Linked DNA regions of Homo sapiens. The protein of the gene in region 2 interacts with the protein of the main gene of each other region in a biochemical or structural test. Each region holds a gene or a part of one and is shown on either strand. Other genes may lie near its edges.

Evidence for each region.
Region 1: the proteins of SET (region 2) and TAF1A form a complex in vitro, tested with the Homo sapiens proteins (one study listed by BioGRID).
Region 3: of the proteins of SET (region 2) and GZMK, one has a biochemical effect on the other in vitro, tested with the Homo sapiens proteins (3 studies listed by BioGRID).
Region 4: the proteins of SET (region 2) and GZMA form a complex in vitro, tested with the Homo sapiens proteins (2 studies listed by BioGRID, with this or other methods).

The regions. Positions count from the first base shown.
Region 1 is NC_000001.11:222,558,928-222,565,969, reverse strand, and holds part of TAF1A (TATA box-binding protein-associated factor RNA polymerase I subunit A), read left to right. Parts: intron 1-1,844; coding exon 1,845-1,911; intron 1,912-2,673; coding exon 2,674-2,797; intron 2,798-4,451; coding exon 4,452-4,606; intron 4,607-7,042. UniProt on the Homo sapiens protein: Component of the transcription factor SL1/TIF-IB complex, which is involved in the assembly of the PIC (pre-initiation complex) during RNA polymerase I-dependent transcription.
Region 2 is NC_000009.12:128,692,214-128,696,930, reverse strand, and holds the end of SET (protein SET), read right to left. Parts: intron 4,270-4,717; coding exon 4,166-4,269; intron 4,064-4,165; coding exon 3,950-4,063; intron 3,294-3,949; coding exon 3,123-3,293; intron 3,036-3,122; coding exon 2,889-3,035; intron 2,291-2,888; coding exon 2,267-2,290; 3' UTR 535-2,266; downstream 1-534. UniProt on the Homo sapiens protein: Multitasking protein, involved in apoptosis, transcription, nucleosome assembly and histone chaperoning. Isoform 2 anti-apoptotic activity is mediated by inhibition of the GZMA-activated DNase, NME1.
Region 3 is NC_000005.10:55,027,228-55,034,269, forward strand, and holds part of GZMK (granzyme K precursor), read left to right. Parts: intron 1-3,206; coding exon 3,207-3,357; intron 3,358-4,136; coding exon 4,137-4,406; intron 4,407-6,537; coding exon 6,538-6,699; 3' UTR 6,700-7,042.
Region 4 is NC_000005.10:55,105,615-55,110,763, forward strand, and holds the end of GZMA (granzyme A precursor), read left to right. Parts: coding exon 1-4; intron 5-2,179; coding exon 2,180-2,321; intron 2,322-2,510; coding exon 2,511-2,780; intron 2,781-4,406; coding exon 4,407-4,568; 3' UTR 4,569-4,638; downstream 4,639-5,149. UniProt on the Homo sapiens protein: Abundant protease in the cytosolic granules of cytotoxic T-cells and NK-cells which activates caspase-independent pyroptosis when delivered into the target cell through the immunological synapse. It cleaves after Lys or Arg.

The DNA.
Region 1 (7,042 bases), on a different chromosome or scaffold from region 2:
GATCAAAATTGGCATTATCAAACCTTCAGATGTGGAAACTAAGTTTTATAAATTTTTCAACAGGCTTTGTTTTACTAAACAATCCTTTGCTGTTGTTGTTGTTTGAAACAGGGTCTCACTCTGTTGCCCAAGCTGGAGTGCAATGGCATGATCACGTGAGGCTCCCTGTAGCCTCCACCTCCCTGGCTCAGGTGATCCTGCCACCTCAGCCTCCCGAGTAGCTGGGACTACAGGCACACGCCACCATGGCTGGCTAATTTTTTGTATTTTTGGAGAAACAGGGTTTTGCTATGTTGCCCAGGCTGGACTAAACAATACCTTTAAAGTTGCTATTTTTATTTTACTCTCTTAAGATAGCTTTTGGCTCATTTATATTACAAAATATTAAGGATTGTGTTTAAAACAAAAGCAAGACTGTGCTTTCAGGTTATCAATCACTAATGGTGTTTTTGAAAAGATTTTTTAAAATGCTACAGAAAATAACTGTTGAATACTTATCTCATATTTATATTCAAGACAAGATGGATTTAGAGAAATTCTGTTTTTCCTTTTGAAAAATAGGGTATTTGGAATTAAGATCTCAATACATGGGTTTAATAGCAGATTGGACATAGCAAAAGAGAGGATTAATGAACTGCATAGAAAATATCAGGCTAAACCATGGAGAACAAAAAGGATGAAAGGTGCAGAAACGAGCATACAAGTGAATTGGTGAAAAGATCTGACATACCTGTCATTGGAGTCCTAGGTGGAGGACCTCTGAATAGAACAGGGCAAAAGCAAGCAAACTAATTTTTTAAAAACACTGGCATTTGAAGGGCTCATGACTAAGACTTTTTCAAAACAAATGGAGGATTTCTAGTGTTCTGGTGATGTGCTATTATTTGATCTGGGTGCTGGTTACCTGAGTGTTTAACTTTGTGAAAACTGACTGGTGTCATGATTTGTATGCACTTCTACTACATGTTATATTTCAATAGAAAAATCTAAGTGAATTGAGCCATATACAGAATTCTATAAAATCATGAGACAAATGTGACTTTCATAGGAACTGAATTTCAATAATATTCTCTGATATTGGTGTATTGATCTTGATTGATCTTTTTAAAAATGATTAAGAGAAATTAACAAAATTTACTTTTAATTTTGTTGGAAATTATTTCAATGTAAGGTCAAAGTACTTTAGTAAGCAGAATGAATTCATTTCTAGTATTAAATGTATTAAAATGAAAAATACAGCTTTACTTTAAATTCCATTTTTTGAATATTCATAAAAATAGTCCTTCCTATTTTTTAAAAGAAAAATCTTTAATTTTTTCATTGTGTGAAAGGTTGTTAAAATATTTACTCATATAACCTTAGTAAACTGTTCCTGAGCACAATCTGTGAAATTAACTCCCAGCCTTTTTAGCTTTTTTGCTTTATATAAATATTCTGTGATCTCTTCTGTTTAGTAAATAAGTATATTTTCTGTGTGATAATTGATTTTTTTCTTTTTTTCTTCAGTCCTGGCTTCTGAAAGAAATCGTTTTTAGTTGTTGAGCGTGGTAAACAGTATAGATATGTATAAGGAGCAAATAAAAAGTCCCTGCCTATTTTCCTCACTTCTCCTGACTATTTTGTTATCAGGGCCTTTTTTTTTTTTTTTTTTTTAAGACAGCTTTACAGAGAATGCTTTTCTATACTTAGATTGAAACTAGATAAAGAGCCAGGGTATTTTTAAAATACTTAATAAATTTAAAGGGAGCATATTAGACAGTAAGAACTTTATTTTGAAAGTAAGCTGAAATTTGAGAAATGCTTTTACAAGTATGTAAAGATTACAAGACTGTTCTTTCTTTCAGATTTTGTATCAGATTGTACCATCTCATAAATTGATGTTGGAATTCCATACATTACTTAGAAAATCAGGTAATAAATAAATGTTGTTTTATACCTTGTGTAGACAAGCTATAGACTAGGGACCAGCAAACTAGTTTAGCCCATCGGCTAAATCCACCCCTTTCCTGATTTTATAAATCAAGTTCTGTTGGAGTCCATCTGTTTCTGTATTGTCTGCGGCTGCTTTTGCACTATAGTGACAGAGCCGTGTAGTTGTGACAGAGACTGTATGCCTTGCAAAGCTTAAAATATTTATTATCTGGGCCTTTATAGAAAAAGTTTGCCTACTCCTGTTACACAATGTGAAGGCAGTAGTTTGCAAAAGAGAAATGGCTCGATTTTATATAATTCACTCCATTTTAATCCCTGCTACATTTCAGCACACCATAGAAGAGAGCATGCTCCTTCATAGAAGAAAATCAGCTGGCTAAGCCCAAGCTGGTCCTAGGACTGCCTAGGTTCCTCTCTGAATATGAAAGAACATGTATAAAATGCCCAAACAGGGCAGGTACTTTAAATAATGTCCTTAGTAGAGGAGTGTAACCCATATTGAGATCAAATTCACCACCATTACCTCATTAGCAGGGATTTTTATTGAGTTTTTCAGATTCATTGCAGGAGTAAGAGCATAATGAATTTTTAAAAACTGTTAACCAGAAGGCTTATGATTCAGTATTTTATCAACAACATATATGTAAAGTATATATACAGTTGATAAAATGTATACATGTAAATTTTAGCTTTGTACACTTTAATACCTTATGTAAACTTGAACTGTTAAAACCATTGCAGAAAAAGAAGAACACCGTAAACTGGGGTTGGAGGTATTATTTGGAGTCTTAGATTTTGCCGGATGCACTAAGAATATAACTGCTTGGAAATACTTGGCAAAATATCTGAAAAATATCTTAATGGGGTAAGAAACATACAGTGTTTATTACTAGGTCATCATAAATAATATTTCCCAATATTTTAGCTAATATCAATTTTTAAAGATCTTTGCTTATGTTTTATAATTTCTTGAATTGTGTCTTCAGCTGTTTTCTGAGTACATTTTCTTCTGAAGCAAAGAAATACAGAGTCATAAGGAGAACATACAAAAATTCTATCAATTTTTTTATGCCATCAAAATAAATCCTGTACTTAGCACTACTGCTTGCTAAGGAATACGTATGTGTTTTCCATTTGGAAATAAAGACTAGCAGGGATCACTCTTTGCTAAAGACTCTTTGTGATTTGTGCGTCATTAACTTGTAAGATCACATGGGAAGCAGCTTTCCTCCTACCTGTGTTTGATCATTTTCAGTGAGTATTTTTAGGACCTGACAAGATCATCATACACTAGTCATTTAACAAATACTCATTAAATCCATTTTGACCTGGGTATCTAAAAGTGTACCTCTGATCATAATATTGTTAGTGTCACATTTTGAGTAAAAGAAAATGAATTTCCTGTTATTTTTACTTAGTGTGTGAGAAGAAGGGATATTACAAAGTTGTTTCATATATTTATTATATCCAATTTAGTTGTTAGGCAATTCAGTGTCAGTTGGAAATTGTTTCAGGCTTCAGATCTGACTTGTCCCGATGGGACAGTGCTGTTTATAAAATGGTTTTGGTGTCATATGTTGACGCACTCACTGTAAAGCATTTTCTAAATCTGAAGCCCTGAATAAACTTCTACTAGATCATAAGGTCCTTGAAAGCAAAGAGGTTCATTTTTTCGAACCTCTATTTGTTCTACCATAGGGGGCACATGGGTGCCAATAAGCATTTGCTCAATTAAATTATAGAGATCTAATGTGCAACGTAGACTGTAGTTAATATTGTATTGCATATAGGAAATTTACTATGAGTAGAGTTCAGGTGCTCCCACCACTCAAAAAAGTTAACTATATGTATATGAAACATGTTGTATACCTTAAATATATACAATAAAAAAAATTATTCACAGACACACAGAATTGCCTGCACTTAACAGTTTAACATATGTCTTAATGTATTTGTATAATAATGGTATCTCCATTTGGATAGTAATTCATGGCAGCATATAATTTTAAGTAAGGTTTTACTTAAGTAATAGTAATAGATAATATTTATTGAACATTTACTATGTACCAGACACTATGCAAAGAGCTTTATATGAGACCTGCTGTACCCTACTACTAGAATAGTTTAATCTTAATAACATTCCTATGAGATCAGTACCACTAATGTCCTCAAGGGCACTGAAGCTCAGAGAGGTTCAGCAACTTGCCCAGGATCACATACATAGTAGATGGAAGAGCTGATATTTGAATCCAGGATTCTGGCTTCGAGTCTGTTCTGTAACCACTGTGCTAAACTGTCTGTTTAGTGAAATGGAAAATGGGATATGGAGATGGAAGAGAACAAAAAAGGATTTGCTTTCCTGCTGTTGCCAATCATGTGTTATGCCTTGGCCATATTGAGAATTTAGCTTGGAAGCATCTTCCTTGTCATCTTTCTGTAGACTCTAGTTAAGTCTAAATTCTGATAATATAGATTTGTTTCCATCATTGACCCTCTCTTTTGACATTTTTCTTTTCCAGAAACCACCTTGCGTGGGTTCAAGAAGAGTGGAACTCCAGGAAAAACTGGTGGCCAGGCTTTCATTTCAGCTACTTTTGGGCAAAAAGTGATTGGAAGGAAGATACAGCTTTGGCCTGTGAGAAAGCTTTTGTGGCTGGTTTACTGTTAGGAAAAGGTACAGTTTTTATTTTCGTTTTATCTAGACACAGCTTTGGCTGATTTTGAAATTATGAAGTATGGCCTTCATTTAGAGCTTACCTAACATGGTACCTAAAAATATTAGGTGCTTAAGACATAACTGCTCAATGGAAGAGTGAATCCTGAGTTGGGACTATGTGCTTAGATTAGAAGCAGTGATTTCATATTGATTGTGAACGGTTTTCATCTCCTGACTTGAGTGTTGTTAGGGGGCCATTAAGATACATGATACAGAGTTTTCACAATAATTGACCATTTGGCCTTGTTTTATAGAAAGTTTACTGAGATTTTCAAGTGTCAAAATATTCTTTATTGACCTCACTGTTCTTTAATAGCTTCATATTATACTAATATTTACTTACCTGTTTCTGTAAGCGTGAAACATTTCCTCCACTTAAGAGAAAGAATACCTCCTACTAGCATATGAAAAAAATTCTCTTCAAAGAAAAGGGATATTGATTTTTTCTTCAAAGAAAAGAAATATTTTGGGTGGTAAAATTCTTACCTGCTTTCTGCCACTGAAATTATTAAAAGGTGGCCAGTACCGAAATGAAACTACCACAGAGTATGTCCAGAAATGAAGAAAATAAATCTTACAGTGACCACTAGTAAGCAGTCCATTGCTAGGGAGCTTAAGGTGTCCTGAAGAGATTCTCCAATTCACTTTTGAATATGGTTTCTATTATTTTGGAATTAGTAGTCTCAGTGAATGTAATACAATGTTGATTAAGAAGAAAATAAAAATCAATACACTGATGACAAGGAACAGAAAGGTGATTTGGATTGTCATTTTTCTACTTTATGAGTAGAGCGGCATCTAGCACAATTATCAAGAGGTCTCTTTGAGCAGAGTAGGAAGATCTGGGTTAATTTTCCAATTCACTCCCTTGCTATCTAACTTAGGTCAAGCAATTAACTTTTAGGAGCCTTTTCTATGAAGTGGGCATTGTAACACCCATCTTATTGTTGTAAGTATCATGTGAACATCGCATCAAAGTGCTTTGTAATTTCTAAAGTGCTCTACAAATATCAGGCATCAGTTACTCCCGCAAGAGCCACATCTCCTCTCAGGCTGTTAGTGTGGGGTTGAGTCAGTCTATTCATTAGTTAAGCTGGGTTTTCTTCTTGCTCTGGTTACCAACCTTACTTTATAGGATTCAAATTCTGGGTGTGGTCTGCCTTTGCTTTGTGCTTTGAGTGGGGTATGGTGGCTCTCTTTCTTTCCATGCTGCACTAAAAGCAAGCCAGGCCCATTTCTCCTTGGAGGGGTCTTTCCTTGTTGGGATTGAAGCTACTTGGTTGCCCTGTGACTTCAGCTCTCATGGACTTGAGAGTTAGTTTATTAAGCTTTTTCTCTATGTTAGGGTGGGAACGAAATTCTTTCCAGCTTTCTATATAGGTACAGGCAAAAATCTGTGTGCAAAGTATTTTGTTTTTTACTAAGGTAGTATGATATGTTTAGAAATACAAATTATTTTAGTAACACTACAGACACCACTGCTTCCCAGCTAGTAAAACGTTACTAGCTGGGTGCGGTGGCATGCAGTGTGCCTGTAATCCTAGCTACTTGGGAGGCTGAGGTGGGAGGATTACTTGAGCCCAGGAGTTTGAAACCACTTTGTGTCCCATAGTGAGACCCCATCTCAGGAAAAACAACAAAACAAAGATGTTAGCAATTCTGGCATACTAGTTTCAGGAATAATAAAAATGGTTACTATAGGTACAGTATATGTCCTTGCATTTTCTCAGAGAAGATGGATGCATACAAGCTGAAACTGTAATGAAATTAATTTTTCATATGTGAATTATGGTCTTATTCATTTACCAACTCTAAAAAACCTCAATATCCAGTTTACATTTTTCTTACAGAAATATGATTCATTTGTCTGAAATATTTGACAAATGCTTGACAGTCCTTTGTGTGTTGTAAGACTTATGAACAGCAGGTGGAACTTCTAATGAGCATGAGGCACCTCTGTGAGAGCTACATGGTCTCCACCTTGCTGCTCTCTACATGGCTAGAATGAATAGATAATGTTTGACCGTTTCTAACCTATGATTTGTTTATTCTAATCCTTCACATCCTAAGATTTTCTACAGAGAACTTTCTTACTGTTATGAACGTAACTTTGGCTGATTTACAAGCTAACATTGAGAAGGAAGCTATACGAATGTGCTTTTGGAGAAGGCTCATTTAATATGTGACTGTATATAATATGCCTGTCACCATCACTAGGGTGTAGGAGGAAGAGTAGAAAACAAGCTAAAGTCTATGCTTTAATTATGGTGGATTAGAAACATCTTTATATATAGGAAGAAATATGTTTCGTTGGGCACAGCTGAGAATATACTTATGCCATATTGGTAATACAAATAAATTTTGTATATAGGAACAAATGTATTTCATTGGGCA
Region 2 (4,717 bases):
ATGCCCCAGTGGCTGCCTGAAACCACAGGAGTATCAAGCCCCATACAATTTTTCCTGTACCTGCCTATAAAACTTAATTTCCAAATTAAGCACAGTAAGAGATTAACGGTATAGGATAATTTTGACTATTGTATACTATAACTATACATTCACACATTTAACATACAGTATAGGTGTGAATGTAGTCTCAAAGTATCTGAATTGTAGTTGACCACATGTAGCTGAAGCTGCAGATAACAGGACCCACTGTACTCAATTTTCTTCCTAGTGAAAAGTCCTTTTGAGACTTCAGAATGAAAATGCTATACTCACCCTCTCAGAAACTGTTTACTCAGAAACTGTATCCAAGTAAGATATTTGAATTTGTCCTTTACTCGGACACCGACCAGCTCAAAGCTTTCTAAACCAATGTCATACCATTAGCGCTAACCCACGCTTCCCCAGTCACTAACGATGTGAAGACAAAAAACTAGAACAATTTCTGAATCCAATAGCAAGTAACATTTCTCTATAAAACAAGGAGAATGACCCCAGTCCAAAAAAAATCTTTATGTTCCTTTATTGGAGCAAGATTCCTGATCGGTATACAGTGATGTATTTACTAAACAGAGACCTGTGCAGAAATTACATACTATCCATCTAGATAGGTTGTTACACTTTTGCCTATTGATGGAATAGTTCCATTTATCAAGTTTTATACATCAAAAAGCTTTTGAAGTTCACCAGACTGTCCATTAATTCACCTCTGAAAAAGTGGCATTTAATTTCAGCGACTATATTTTACAGCATTAAAAAGCTTATGCATTAGGGTGCTTCTCTGCACAATGGCATTGAGCAGACAGAGCTGAGTCCATTATCCCACCCAGATTCACATGGTCACATTTGAGAGCTTTATACCAGAAAGCAGGGACAGTTACTGCTCACCATCAGACTTCTTACTGAGAGCCTATCTTCTTGGCCACATTTTATATAGCCAATGAAGACATGCCAGCAACTGTCCCGTGTATAACTTGGCATTAGAGCACCAGGTCTGTTGGATGGTGGTGGCAGGCACAATTAATTTATATCCAGGTAAAAGGCCAATTTTAAAAACTGCCACTTGGAGATAAAAATCAAGGGCACAATGTACTCAGAGAGTATTGAGCTATCTGGTATCCCAAATGATGTGAATACTTTCAGAAACCAATGGCAAATTGAACCCACGTTTCCCAGCTATGGAGATATTAATACATTGATTCAAATCCCATTACTCAATCCACATAGCCCTGAGGTCATCCTGCAAAGTGCGTATCAAAAAATACGAAGTTAGGGTGACAAAGTTTGACAGTGATGTTATACAAGTCAAACTTGGAAGGTCATAGTAAGCATACCTATGCTGAGAGAAAAGCATCAAATCCTTTGTGTACACATTTAGTTTTATTGTAACAAAGCAACTTGTACACTTTTAACGTTTAAAACTGAGCATCATCTTTCCTTTCCAGTGAAACAAAAAGAAAATTTAAAAATAAACAGGAACAAAATTACAATAGAGAATGTCAATTCCAAATAAGATCCTACAGGTTCTGCTGATTCTCCCATTGAGTGGCAGGGCTCAAGTCATCATTAGGAGAGAATTTATTTTAAAAGTGTCATCTTAAACTGCAAGGATGTCTGTCAAATATCACAATTAAACATGCCAAAGGAGAAGCCATGTTGTCAAAATGCCCACTTAACCCACCCAAACATCTCAAACCCACCCTTTGCTGACCTTCTATAACCCCATTTTTTTAAGTTTTTTTTTCTTTTTTTAAACAAGAGAAAGTAGACAGATACATGTTGGTAAATGCTAACTGTCCATATTCACATAGAGACACAGTGTACTCTCTGAGCCCAATATACAGAGAAAGGAGGAAAAAAGCTAGAATTCTATGCACTACTACACAGGGGCCTAGCACCCTCCAGCTTCCAGCAGAGCGAAGGGAGCAGGTTTTTCTTTTTTCCCACAGAGCTCGGTGGTGTTGATTCCATACAGTTTTTGTTCAGACAGGAAGGGATAAAAATGAACTTCGAACAGAAAGGGGTAGAGACTCTTTTCCCATTGTATTCTGCTCAAGGTATTTCCCCCCAAATAAATTGAGAACCATGGAGTAGAGAAAAGAGACCTCAAGAACAGGGCGACTGAGCACAAGAGGGAAAAAAAAAAAAAAAAAAAAAAAAGACTGCAACTTGCTCCCAGGGACTGGAGAAAATTTAAAAAAAGGAAGGTTGGAATCCATCAGTGTTCTATTTAGTCATCTTCTCCTTCATCCTCCTGAAAGAAAAAGTGGGCAGTTAATCTTCAGGATTAATGCTGAGACTTGCTTTCATATGGACCACAATGGACCCCACGAGTGCCCCTGGGGGCACTCCAGTTTCTAAACCTGTAAGTCAGCTGCATCGAAGGAAACACCCGTGATGATGTTGCTTCAGATTAATTAGTAACTTCAGTTCTAACCAAATCAGGTATATTTCGGATCAAATAATCCGAAATAAAACCAACCTATCCTAATTTGACTATTCAGAAATTGTGCAGTTTGTCGAAAATACATGAAACTTTGTTATTTCAGAGATGTCAGAATTTGACCAGCTACACTGCCTATATTGCCTAAGTACTGGCTAGGGAAAAACAAGCTTGGGTGGTGATAAGTCTAACCAAAAAAACCCAAAAAAAAACCAAAAAAAACCTAGTTAAACATTAGTACCATGTGCTTATCAAACATTTCCTTAATTCTTGAACAACAAAATGGCTTACTTTTTTTCCACAATCAGTTCTGGTCAGTTCTACCACACTATATATATATATATACACCCCAAAATAACATGAATTCTTTAAAAGTTATCTTTGTGGGTTTAGCCAAATTTTCTTTTACCTCTCCTTCCTCCCCTTCATCATCATCTTCATCTTCTTCACCTTCATCCTCATCCCCTTCTTCGTCAATATCTTCTAATCCTTCCTCCTCTTCATCATCATCATCATCTTCTTCTCCTTCTCCTTCTTCATCATCCATATCGGGAACCTTAAAAAAAAAAAAGCACAATATAAGGACTCATTTTTAAACAACCGAGACAAGTCCAACCTTGAATAAATGAGTATTAGAACTCACCAAGTAGTACTGTAATGGGTTTGGCCAAATATCATCTTTGATGACCTCTCCTAACTCATCAGCACCTGCATCAGAATGGTCAGTAAACCAGGTAAAGAAGCTCTCTGGTTCCTCATGCTGCCTCTTCCTGCTGGCTTTATTCTGCGTTTGACTCGAACGTTTCGTCAAATCCTAAATGAATACCGGAAGAGCTTTTGATACAATCTCTCCATAACACCCAAACTCCCTATAATTTAAAAAATAAGATTTTCCCCAAAAGCTAAGCAAAACAAATATCAGTATACTATCTACGCTACCATTATTACCTAAGAGCAATTATAAAACTGTGCAGCAGGTAGAGGTAGTATCAACTACATTTGGTTTTCCATAAAATTAGTTCCACTGTTAACAGCCACTAGCACAACACAGTATAAATATCTAAACTATGTCTTACTACCTAAATACGGATGTAAATGATTTTGAGAAATGGCAAGCCATTTGAAGAGCTCAGTCACCACTGCAGAAAACAACAGCAACAAAAAATTTAGTCCAGTTCTCAATTCTTAAACTTGGGCTAGATTTTTCTCTTTTTTTTTGTTTTTTGGAAGGTAAGGGTCTATGTTGCCCAGGGTAAACTCCTAGGCTCAAGAGATCTTCCTGCCTACATCTGTAGTATCTAATGAGAACCCTAAACTACTGTAATACTTGGCTTCAGCACACTGGAACGTTTTATATTTTAAGGTTTTGTATTTAGCCACATGACCAAAGTATCAAGCACTTGTAAGTGGTTAAAACTAAACTGAAATAGGCAAAATGCTATTTTTGTCAAATAATTCCTCAAAACATACCTTTCCAGATTTCCATTTGATTTCGGTGGACTTCGAAGATGGATCACCACTCTCATTCAGATGAAATTCTTTGGAGAGAACTTTATTTTCAAAGTAAGGATTTTCATCAAAATACTGTAATAAATAATTGAAAGATTAGAAATATGAACAGGTCTTCCAACCAAAGCTCACATTAATTTCCACAGTGGCAAACAAGATTAAGTTAGAGATACTTACAAAATCTATTCTGTAACCTGATTTAATATCTTCAAATTCTGTCACTTCAACTCTGGTCAAATAATGCAGTGCCTCTTCATCTTCCTCCCCAAGCAGTGCAGACACTAGGCCAGAAAATTACAGGTCAGCTGAATTTTCAACAGGCACACACTAACAACAATTTAAGTGATCCCTTTAAAATTTTTCCGAACTTAGTGAGCATCTTTGGTTTTATAAACCCATTATTAACTAAAGGCAATTGCTCAATATCAGACTGTCACTATCTTTCATCAAGCAATTAGAATATAGCTTCTCCTAAACAGAATAGAAAGCAGTAGCTGTATATCTTTTCCCGTCTTTGAGGTTTTTTTTTTTTTTTTTTTTTTTTTGAAACAGTCTCACTCTTGTCGCCCAGGCTGGAATGCAAAAGCGCACAATCTCGGCTCACTGCAACCTCCCCCTCCTGGGTTCAAGCGATTCTCCTGCCTCAGCCTCCCAAGTAGCGAGTAGCTGGGATTACAAGCGCGCGCCACCACGCCCAGCTAATTTTTTTTGTATTTTTAGTAGAGACGG
Region 3 (7,042 bases), on a different chromosome or scaffold from region 2:
TAGATGTTATCGAGTATTGTTATACAATTATCTGTGCCTTCCATGGTAATAACCAAGGAACTAATCTGATGTTGACGAGATAAGACTGGGAAGACCTCCCTCTCTGACAGCCAAGTTCTTCTCCCTCTCTCTTAGGCAAGAGAAATCTCCAAGACATAGGGACCCTGCCTTTGCTGCCAGACCTCAAGGGGCGGGTCTAAGCAGAACCACTGTTGAGTGTCCAGGCGCGCTGGCAGAGAAAAGAAGAGGCTTGAAGGGGGTTGGCACGGGGTTCAAAGAGGGATTGAGGAAAGAGCACTGGACTGGGAGTCACCAAAAGCCAAATTTGGGTCCTGATTCCCCTATTTATGAGGTGTGTCACCTTGGACCAGTCAGAGAACAATCTTTTACTGGTAAGGAATACACAGCCCGTCAGCTTTACCAGCCTTGAAAAAGGTTATTGTTAGGCTCAATGGAGACAATGTTTACAGATGTCTTCAGCAGACCCACTATAAGCCGCACTGTAGTTCTGCTCCATATATGAATCTCTTCCAGGAAAGCTCAGGGTGGGACTCCGGAAACCACATTTTAAACCAACACCTCCAGGTGATTCTGAAGCAAGTCTGAAGACTGCATTTGGGGAAATCCTGTGCTGTGCAACTGAAAAACACTGGCATTATTACTTCCTCTTTGTGTGAATTCAGACTTCAGTTTAGCTAAGGAGGTGGCATCCCAGAACTCAAGTAATTCCAGGTACCCTGTGGGCAGAAAATTTGACCTGAGTAGCACAGATTACAGTTGAAGGATATCTAGAAATTGAAAGGTCAGAAGGAATAATGGTCTGCTTGGGTTGTTTTTGGTCTTAACATGTCCCAGTGGAGACAAAAATAACCAAAACATTTCAAAGGCAATAACTAGCCGAGTAAATTAGTAAAAGACGAAAGAAACCCAGACATTTTTTCAGCATCCCTCCCTTAGTGAGAATCCACCCTCCATACCTCTCATTTGTACCTCATAGCCTTCTTTGTGTGAGTCATTTAGGCACGTGCCCACCTTTCTGTTAGAGCATTCATCCTGAAGATTTTTATGTCATCCTTCTCCTACAAAGTTTTGGGTTTAGTGGGTATGTTGAATTTGAATTCAAATCAATCCTAGGAAATCCAGTCCACATCCTATGAGAAATTTCCACCCGGTCCTGATTTTGCAATAGGCAAACTTTTCAACAAATAGAGCTGGAATTCCCAAAATAAATAAAAATAAACTCTTTTGGTAGAAACCAAAAAGTGGTCATTCCAGGCAGTCACAGCTCTGCCATAAGCAAACCCACTCTACCACAGGCATTTGCCATTTTCAAATCTGAAACAATCATGTCTTCCTTTTTCTGTATGTTTCTGTGCTCTTTGTAACTTTTATTAATCTTTATTAATCTATATGCATGAGTATGTGTGTTTTTACTGCAATCTACTTTGGTAGCTTTTCCAAGTAGCAAAGAAATAGTTACATGTAAACAAACAAATACAATTAAAAGATCTGAGGTGGACTTCATAAAGATAGACACTGTAATGGAATGTATCTGTAGTATACAAATGGCTCTACGGTTCTGCCAAAATCTCCAAAAAATTATTTCTACTTTATCACTGCTGTAAATGTAATTTTATCCAACAAAGAGTAAATCAGATCAATTGTGGCACTGTTGAAACACTGGTACTAGAACTGTGTATGACCAGAGATTTAAAAAGCAAACCTTGCCAGGCACAGAGACTCACGCCTGTAATCCCAGCACTTTGGGAGGCTGAGGCCAGTAGATCACCTGAGGTCAGGAGATTGAGACCACCCTGGCCAACATGATGAAATTCCGTCTTTACTAAAAATACAAAAATTAGCCAGGTGTGGCGGCACAAGCCTGTAGTCCCAGCCTCTCGGGAGGCTGAGGCAGGAGAATCGCTTGATCCTGGGAGGCGGAGGTTGCTGTGAGCCGAGATGGCGCCACTGAACTCCAGCCTGGGAAACAGAGCAAGACTCCTTCTCAAAAAAAAAAACGTTAAAAAAGAAAGCCAAAAAACAAACCTATTTCTTCACCTCACTCACCAGTTCGTATCCTCTAAATCTCCCCGATGGAATGGCTACTAACCTTAAAGTATCTTCATTTTAAATTAGCACTGTTTTCTTACCTTGAGGAAAGTTTTCCTTTCTTGTCCAAATCTTTGTTCTAATTGAGGGGACAGGACATATGGACATATCTGACTGTCATGTAATAGGCCTTACTTCCCCACATTGACCTGAGATGAAGTCTAGGCATGTGGGTGAGCAAGTGTAGGGTGGGGATCTTTGTGGTTTTTGTTTGTTTGTTTGTTTGTTTGTTTGTTTGTTTTTAAGAGATGGGGCCTTGTTCTGTCACCCAGGCTGTGACACTTCAGCCTCCAGCTCCAGGACTCAAGCAATCCCTCCTGCTTCAGCCTCTCAAACAGCTGGGACTGTAGGCATGCACCACCATGCCCAGCATGCACCAGTGTGCCCCTTAATGTTTTTTTAGAGATGGGGGTCTCACTGTATTGCCCAGGTTTCTCTCAAACTCCTGGCCTCAAATGATCCTCCCACCTCAGTCTCCCAAGTGGCTGGGATTACAGGCATGAGCCACCACACCTGGCTACCTTAATTATTAAAACACTTAATGTTGGGAAGATAAAAAAAGTTCTGGGGTTCTGGAGATGATAGTGGTGGATGAACAACAATATACATGTCCTTCATACCACCAAACTGTACATTAAAGAATGGTTAAAATGGTAAATTTTACCATTCTTATACCATTATGTATACTTTACCACAATAAACAAATTTTAATGGTAGTTGGTGTAAATCTCAAACTACAAACTCAAGGAATATAATTTGCTTTATTTTTACATAAATGAACATAATTTTGTTTTAAACTTGATCTAAGTCAATTAGGATTTCACTCCTTTTTCTTCCCCCAGTTGGATACAAGTTCTGATATTCTTTTGCAATGCCAGGGAATTGGTTTAGGGTGGGATTAAGGGCAAGTCATTTGGCCCTTAATATCAATTCATGCTGGGCTCCACTAAGACCTTTGTCACTCCACCTAATCTTAGGCAGGTTACCTTGGAGATAGCCCTTGTTTCTCTGTGTATACAACCCTCTCGACCATCACCACTCCCCACTGGGGGATTTGGAAATCATTCTGCTGCTTTCATTGTCTTTGCTTTTTTTAGGTTTACCAAAGGCCAGTCTCCCACTGTGGTTTTAGGCGCACACTCTCTCTCAAAGAATGAGGCCTCCAAACAAACACTGGAGATCAAAAAATTTATACCATTCTCAAGAGTTACATCAGATCCTCAATCAAATGATATCATGCTGGTTAAGGTAGGTAGTAGCATTGTCTTCCTTCTATTTTGTCAACATTTTTATACAGGATGGCTCAATTAGTTAAATCACCTACAAAATGCATTTTGCTAGCACCCTCCCCATGTTTGAGGTGATTATGATATATTTTATAAGGGCCCATGTTATTCCATATACTGTCTTGAAAGAAACAAGAATTTATCACAAATGCACCAGGGCTGTGTTTATACAAGGAAAAGCAACTCTGATACTCAACATATGTAGGAGGGGAACATCTTAACAGGCCCAAGGATCCACACTGAAAGCTTTTCTCCCAAATGCTTTTCTCATTAGCAAGTAAAAAAATACAACAGTTGTTTATACAACAGAGCCAACCAAGTGACTTCGGGGGCTCAGCAGTGAGTTACAGCTTAGTCTAGACCACACTTAATTTAGTCCGAACTTGGTCTAGACCATACTCAAGGGTCCTATCCGGCAGGAAGCAGCCCAGCCCTCAAAGTCATGACCTATGGATGTTATTCCACACAAAACCATCCAATGCAGGGCAAAGGCCAGTTTGCTCGAGACTGAACAAATTCCTGCTCTCTATAAGCTCCCGCCCCAAGCCTCAGTGAGCTCCTCGGGGAGTAGAGAGCATGGTCAGAAAAGCAACAACCACAAATGCAGCTGCAGGCCACCACCAAAGTAGATCCCAGAACAGGGACGCCCGCCTAAGACAGAGGGACCACACATACGACGCACAGGCTAGCATCAGAATACTACTGGGAAAGAAATAATTCCATCTTTTTTCAATCTGTCAGCTTCAAACAGCCGCAAAACTCAATAAACATGTCAAGATGCTCCACATAAGATCCAAAACCTCTCTTAGATCTGGAACCAAATGCAAGGTTACTGGCTGGGGAGCCACCGATCCAGATTCATTAAGACCTTCTGACACCCTGCGAGAAGTCACTGTTACTGTCCTAAGTCGAAAACTTTGCAACAGCCAAAGTTACTACAACGGCGACCCTTTTATCACCAAAGACATGGTCTGTGCAGGAGATGCCAAAGGCCAGAAGGATTCCTGTAAGGTAAGAATCTCTCTTTCAAACAGGCATCTTGGAGCGCTGTACAGTAGCCAAGCCTCTATTGCTCACTGACACTGAGGAGGAGGGAGGGGCATGGAGAATACAAAACCACAATTCTAAACACTTTCTCTTCATTCCTGCACAGCATTCTCTATTCTTTTTCATCTACCAATGTGGATGGATTGTAAAAACTTCCCCAATACTTTATAAGCACCCACTAAATGTTTGTTAATCAGGATAATAGACCATATCTGACAACTTTTACAGGCTTCCTATGAGAGGTGTTATCCTCCTTACAAAGTCTACCAACCCTGAAGTCACTAGTGGTGATTAGAAGATAACTTATTTAAAGAACCACCTTGCAGATTAATCAATAAGGAGGCCTTAAAGACTCAAATGCAAAAAGCTCAAATATACAGTATGTGTTTCATAAGTAATGCTGACTGACTGTCTTCGTCTGTTTGGGCTGCTACCACAAAATACCATAAACTCGGTGGCTTATAAATAACAGAACTTTATTCTGTTCAAGATCAAGATCAAGGCACCAGCACATTTGGTGTCTGGGGAGGGCCTACTTTCTGGTTCATAAACAGCTTCTTTTCACTCTAATCTCACATGGTAGATGGGGTGAGGGGTCTCTCTTAGGCCTCTTTAATAAGGGAACTAATCTCATTCATGAAGCCTTCACCTCCATGACCTAATCACTTCCCAAAATCACCACCTCCTAATACTCTCACCTTGGGAGTGAGGATTGCAACATATGAATTCGGAGGAATCAGACTTTCAGACCATACCACTGACTAACAAAAAGGAACAAAAGGCCGGGCATGGTGGCTCACACCTGTAATCCCAGCACTTTGGGAGGCCAAGGTGGATGGATCTGTTGAACTCAGGAGTTTGAGACCAGCCTGGGCGATATGGTGAAAACCCGTTTCTACAAAAAATACAAAAATTAGCCAGGTGTGGTGGCACACGCCTGTAGTCCCACCTACTCAGGAGGCTGAGGGGGGAGGATCACCTGAGCCCAGGAGGTTGAGGCTGAAGTGAGCCGAGATCTTGCCACTGCATTCCAGTCTGGGTGACAAAATGAGACCCTGTCTTAAAAGAAAAAAAGGAACAAGAGTCATTATGTTTTTCAAAATCATTTGTTTATTGAGATGGTAAGGAAAAAAATAGGTGTTCATGTTTGTATGAACTATACTAATATATAGCACAAATGAATTACTAATTTTTTAAAAATTAGAATACAGTATTCATCTCATACTATATTAAGTATAATTGGGGGAGAGGATATGATGACTTCAAATGTCTTGTGCATCTGCAGTACCCAAGACCATCACCCTCCTAAACATCGGTTATCATGGTTGACCAAAGTATAAGGCACTGCAGTTTGCAATGTGAACATTAGCAAAGAGAAAGGCTGGTCTTCAAATGTAGAAGCCAGCTCTTCATCAAAAGGCCATGCCATCCCCTCTATAGCTCTTTCCCTTCACTTGATAGAATTTAGTTACATGCTTTGCTGTTAGAGTGTCTTCAAAAATCATTTCATTCACTAAGTATTTACTAAGTATGGTACATATACATAACACTATGTCCAACCATGTGAGGATGCAAAAAATAAATAAATAACAGAGAACATATAATTCCTGCCATGAAGACATTTACTACAATACATTGCTCTTTTCTGCTAGCCTCAATAACAACTCGATTTTAGGTCTGTGAGCATCAAAATGAAATCTACAATTTTAAAAGATTATTTTATTTCAGTGGATTATTTAAAACTTTATCCATTCTTTAATAAATAGTCAATAGTCATTGATTCCCAGAGGAATGTAGACATAGATAGGGACAAAACAGAGATATAGACATGGACACTGAGACAGAGGCAGAGGCATAGTCATAGTCATAGATAGAGACATAAACAGAGAAGCAAGTAGGCAGAAACATAGTCCTTGACAGAGACAGGCACATGGACAACCTATAACGAGTAAGAGGCAGTGTCAGACACTCTTCTGGACATAAAGAAAGCAAAGACCCAGATGATAATCCCTTGAGCAATCAGCAGTTGGTGGTTAAAAAACAAAAATATCCCAACAGCTTCTTACCACGTATTTGCCCTTTTTCTTCCTTCCAGGGTGACTCAGGGGGCCCCTTGATCTGTAAAGGTGTCTTCCACGCTATAGTCTCTGGAGGTCATGAATGTGGTGTTGCCACAAAGCCTGGAATCTACACCCTGTTAACCAAGAAATACCAGACTTGGATCAAAAGCAACCTTGTCCCGCCTCATACAAATTAAGTTACAAATAATTTTATTGGATGCACTTGCTTCTTTTTTCCTAATATGCTCGCAGGTTAGAGTTGGGTGTAAGTAAAGCAGAGCACATATGGGGTCCATTTTTGCACTTGTAAGTCATTTTATTAAGGAATCAAGTTCTTTTTCACTTGTATCACTGATGTATTTCTACCATGCTGGTTTTATTCTAAATAAAATTTAGAAGACTCTCTGTTTGTCTTTTATCACATGAAGTAATATCTGCCCCCATTGCACCCACACTCGCCAAAGGGCAATAAGGTCACTGAATAAAACAGTAATGGTACCACCTTCAACTAGGTGTAACTTCTGCTGGATCATCCTAAGT
Region 4 (5,149 bases), on a different chromosome or scaffold from region 2:
ACTTGTAAGTGCCTGGGTTTTTAAAAAAAAGTTTGTAAAGATACTCTAATTTGGGGAAACATTAATAAAAAGAGTAGGCCGGGCACAGTGGCTTACACCTGTAATCCCAGCACTTTGGGAGGCCAAGGCAGGTGGATCACATGAGGTCAGGAGTTTGAGACTAGCCTGGCCAACATGGTGAAACCCCATCTCTATTAAAAATACAAAATTAGCCAGGCGTGGTGGCGCATGCCTGTAATCCCAGCTACTTTGGAGGCTGAGGCAGGAGAATTGTTTGAACCTAGGAGGCAGAGGTTGCAGTGAGCCGAGATCGCACCATTGCACTCCAGCCTGGGCAACGAGAGTGAGACTCCATCTCAAAATAAAATAAAATAAAATAAATAAAATAAAATAAAATAAATAAAATAAAATAAAATAAAATAAAATAAAATAAAATAAAATAAAATAAAATAAAATAAATAAAATAAAATAAAATAAAATAAAATAAAATAAAATAAAATAAATAAAATAAAATAAAATAAATAAAATAAAATAAAATAAAATAAAATAAAATAAAATAAAATAAAAAAATAAAATAAAATAAAATAAAATAAAATAAAATAAAAAATAAAATAAAATAAAATAAAATAAAATAAAATAAAATAAAATAAATAAAATAAAATAAAATAAAATAAAATAAAATAAAATATAAAATAAAATAAAATATAAAATAAAATAAAATAAATAAAATAAAATAAAGTAGATCCCACTGAAGCCATGGGAGGTTCATATGTATCTTCACATCGCTTAAGTCTTTGGGCACTTGCTTGAGCCTAAAAGGAAGTTAGGCCCACACTTGCCACAAAGAATCAGGCAATGAGGAAGCAGCATCCACAAGCTCTTTCTGTACATCTCCACTGAGCCATTGGGTACAGGTGCTGCAGAGCTTTGCTTCTGTCATGACTGCGTGACCAGGTAGAATTAGCCTCAGCATGGAAGGGTGAAACTTTCAGTGCCCCCTCAGAGCCCTGGGTGCAACCATCAAGTACAGAAAGCTTGTGTCCAATGACCTTCTTGTATGCCTCCGTGAATTCCTCTCACATCTTTGGCCATCTCTTCACTCCTGTCGACCACTACATTCAAACCTCTTCCCAGGCCTGGTCTTTTCCTACTCTCTAAATCAAGCCTCTAAACCTAGGCCATTCAATATGATAGGCACTAGCTACATGTAGCTATGTAAATTTCAATCAATTAAAGTTAAATAAAATCTCAAATTAGTTCCTCAGTTGCACTAGCCACATTTCAAGTCCTCAGTAGCCACATGTGGCTAGTGCAGATTCATAGAACATTTCATCATAAAAATATGCTCTACTGGAAAGCACTGTTCTAAGGTCTTTTTCTTTTATTTTTTAATTATTTACTTTTTATTGACATATAATAGTTGCACATATGTTGGGGATACATGTGACCATTTAAGTGAGACTAATCTCAGCTGATGTAATGGAAAAGAGGCAGTGTGCATAATCTGGTTGGTGTAGTTTATACTAGGTTATGAATGATAGCCTTAATCCAATCATCAGTACATCAGAAAGCATTTTGATTTTGATAACCAAAATGAACCTTTAAGAGAAAAAAAGACTCCTGGACCCCTCCTTCAGACCACCATCCCTTCAACACACTCAATGCCAAGCACACTCAATGCCAAGCAAATAGGGTCCTCCATGGGGCAATCTGTTTCTGAAAGTTTTCCCATTTGAGTTTGTTGTTTTCTTGAAAAGATCCCTTCAGTGCATTACTTTACAACTATTGGCTGCTTTTTGCTTCTGTCTCTGGACTACTGAGATCTTTGCTTCCCATCACAGCTAATAAGTAATTCTCCATCACAGCTAAATAAGGCAGGGGTAGGGGGCAGATAAGCACAAGACTTGGCTTTGCTGCCATGGAATTCTCTTGTTTTTCAATGAACCTAGTTTAGCTTTTTATAAATAAGCTGGTGATGATGATGATGACGATAAATTCATAAACATTCTTTTATTCATAAACATTCTTTTATTCTTTAAAGCACACATTTTCTTTCTGAGCCACAAAGAAATCTCCCCACCTCCATATTTACAAATGGGACAATGAAACTGATCAGTATATATGCTCAACTGCCAATACAAAGAATAAATCCAGTAAATAATGTTGTGTCTGTTCTCAGGAACAAAAGGTCCCAGGTCATTCTTGGGGCTCACTCAATAACCAGGGAAGAGCCAACAAAACAGATAATGCTTGTTAAGAAAGAGTTTCCCTATCCATGCTATGACCCAGCCACACGCGAAGGTGACCTTAAACTTTTACAGGTACGTATCTTTGATTGTCTTCTCAAAAGTCATAGAACCTTCTACAATCTGGCCGCCGACGTGAAAACCTTTCCTTGGTGCCCCTGTTGTAAAAACTCACAATAAAGAGGATCCTGAAATTTTGGACTATAATTTAAAATGTAAATATTTATCTTATCCCATTAACACTTTATGTTTTTCTTCCAACAGCTGATGGAAAAAGCAAAAATTAACAAATATGTGACTATCCTTCATCTACCTAAAAAGGGGGACGATGTGAAACCAGGAACCATGTGCCAAGTTGCAGGGTGGGGCAGGACTCACAATAGTGCATCTTGGTCCGATACTCTGAGAGAAGTCAATATCACCATCATAGACAGAAAAGTCTGCAATGATCGAAATCACTATAATTTTAACCCTGTGATTGGAATGAATATGGTTTGTGCTGGAAGCCTCCGAGGTGGAAGAGACTCGTGCAATGTAAGTAAAATAAGATCCCACGTTTCAGCTATTGAATTAAGTCATGCAGACAGAGAAAATGTAATGTCATGCTTTGTTTTGTCATGGCACTGGCTTCTACAGGATCCTAGAGCTTTTTGAAATAAGTTTAATAAAACCCCAGTCAAATAAATGAATGCTCGCAGCTCAAGTGAGTCATTAATCAAAAATAAGAAGTTCACTGCTAGTGCATGGGGTGACCTACTACATATTTTTGATTTTTTACAAAAATTACTAAGAAGCAATGTTTGGTCTCATTTTTCATGTTAACATACGTAGATCTAAACTTGAAGATATACAACACTTATGAGAGCTGAAGTCAGGGTTCCTCAAGGCCACTCAGTACTCTTTCCCCATTTCAGTACATTCCCTCTCCTTCCCCACTACGTTCCTCTGCCATTTAACATCGGCATGTCTGAAATGTCTGTCAAGCCTGGCTGAATATTTCCAGCCAGACCCCATAGCTTCCTAGAGCTTAGTTTAATCTGCAGCAAACTTCAAAGCATGACTCATACCAGAAAATGTGTAAGCTTCCATCCTAGAACCCCCTGAGAAGAGGTGGGATAGGGCCATGCTTAAAGATGAGAATAGAAGAAACATTTTGCAGATTTTTAAACTGAGTACTACCTTGCATTTCTCATTTGTCCCAAAGACCCTATAGAGCCTTACCTGAAGAAGGGTGTGCAGTATGCATGGTTTGGCAGTTACCAGAGACTGAGAAATCCAAAGGTCTCTGTCCTTCCCTAGATCTATGTCTTGCTTTCAGAACCAAAGCTAGCCAAATCCCAGGAAAAGAAAACATTTGTCTTCAGTACCTGTCCACTTTCTCTTCTCTGCCCTAGTTCCCCCATTCCCTCCCTTGTCCACCACCCTGGGTTCCCAGGAACCCAGAACCTTCATGCTTTTGGAACCCACATGCAGCATCCTAAGGCCACGGCAGCATCCCAAGACGCTAGTCCCCATCCCACCAGCCACCCGCCACCACCGAAACTTGGCAATCCTTGCCTGTTCTCTCAACACCCTGGAATTGGCTATTGATGAATTAAACCTAAAGGACTAATTCTGCAAATGCCAGTTACTGTAACAGGCAGGGGAAATAAACCTGTTCAGGGAGGATCCCGGGTTCCAACATGGTTCTTTATTTCATATCTTTATAAGGCCAACTTTTGCCTGAAAGGGACTGATTTGGTTTTGTTTCTTTTGGAAGGCAATTATCTGCTAGAAGAACCACAAAACATAGTGTTTATTCTTTGCTTCAATGTATCATCTGCATTTGACTATTTTGCCCCTTGAGTTATTAAGCATTTTGAGAAAACGACAAATAAACAGGAGACTTTCCTTTCCAAAAGCAGAGCAATAGTCTCAAAATTAGCTGATAACATGTACAAGTTTCACTTCGATTTTCACTGGCTCATAAATAAACCAAGTGAACCAATTCAAAAATATTAAAATATTTCCAAACATTTTAATTTTTAAAATTAAAGCACTATCTTCAATTAAGTCAAGGTTGGTCTTAACTGCATATTAAATGCTGCAGAATTTCTTCCATTTCACTAGTGGTAATGCTGAACACTGACCCCACACCCTACCCCTCTTGTTTTCCTCCAGGGAGATTCTGGAAGCCCTTTGTTGTGCGAGGGTGTTTTCCGAGGGGTCACTTCCTTTGGCCTTGAAAATAAATGCGGAGACCCTCGTGGGCCTGGTGTCTATATTCTTCTCTCAAAGAAACACCTCAACTGGATAATTATGACTATCAAGGGAGCAGTTTAAATAACCGTTTCCTTTCATTTACTGTGGCTTCTTAATCTTTTCACAAATAAAATCAATTTGCATGACTGTACCTGTTTCTCTCTTGTAACCTTAGTGGGCAGATCTGCACCAGCAAAGTGAAGCAGAGTTACATGGCAGCCTTGTAGATAATGCAAGGATTACGTGATCAATGTCACCAGAGTCATTTGTGCGTCAAGTGACATGGGAATGCTTCCTGAATTATTCATCTCTCTGTCTCCATGAAATCCAGCAAGAACAACCCTAAGATCAGGTCTAATAACAAATGCAGTAAAGGCCTCCACAATTCCACAGGAAACAGAAACAGCCAGTCTGGAACATTTGTGTTAAAAGGAAATATAGGGCATTGTTCCACATTAACACCTGCTTTTCATGTTATACACAAGAACCTGAGTCTATGGGAGAAAAAGAAACAAGCAATGCCTTACGGTATTTTCCAAATTCTAGGGCATACAAATAAAGTGCTTGGGCAGCCAAGAAAATTATACAATAGAGAGTCAGCCTTCTTTCTCAGTGCCTTGCATTTAAGCCTTGGATTACCTAGGTGATTTCTCAGTTCTCTT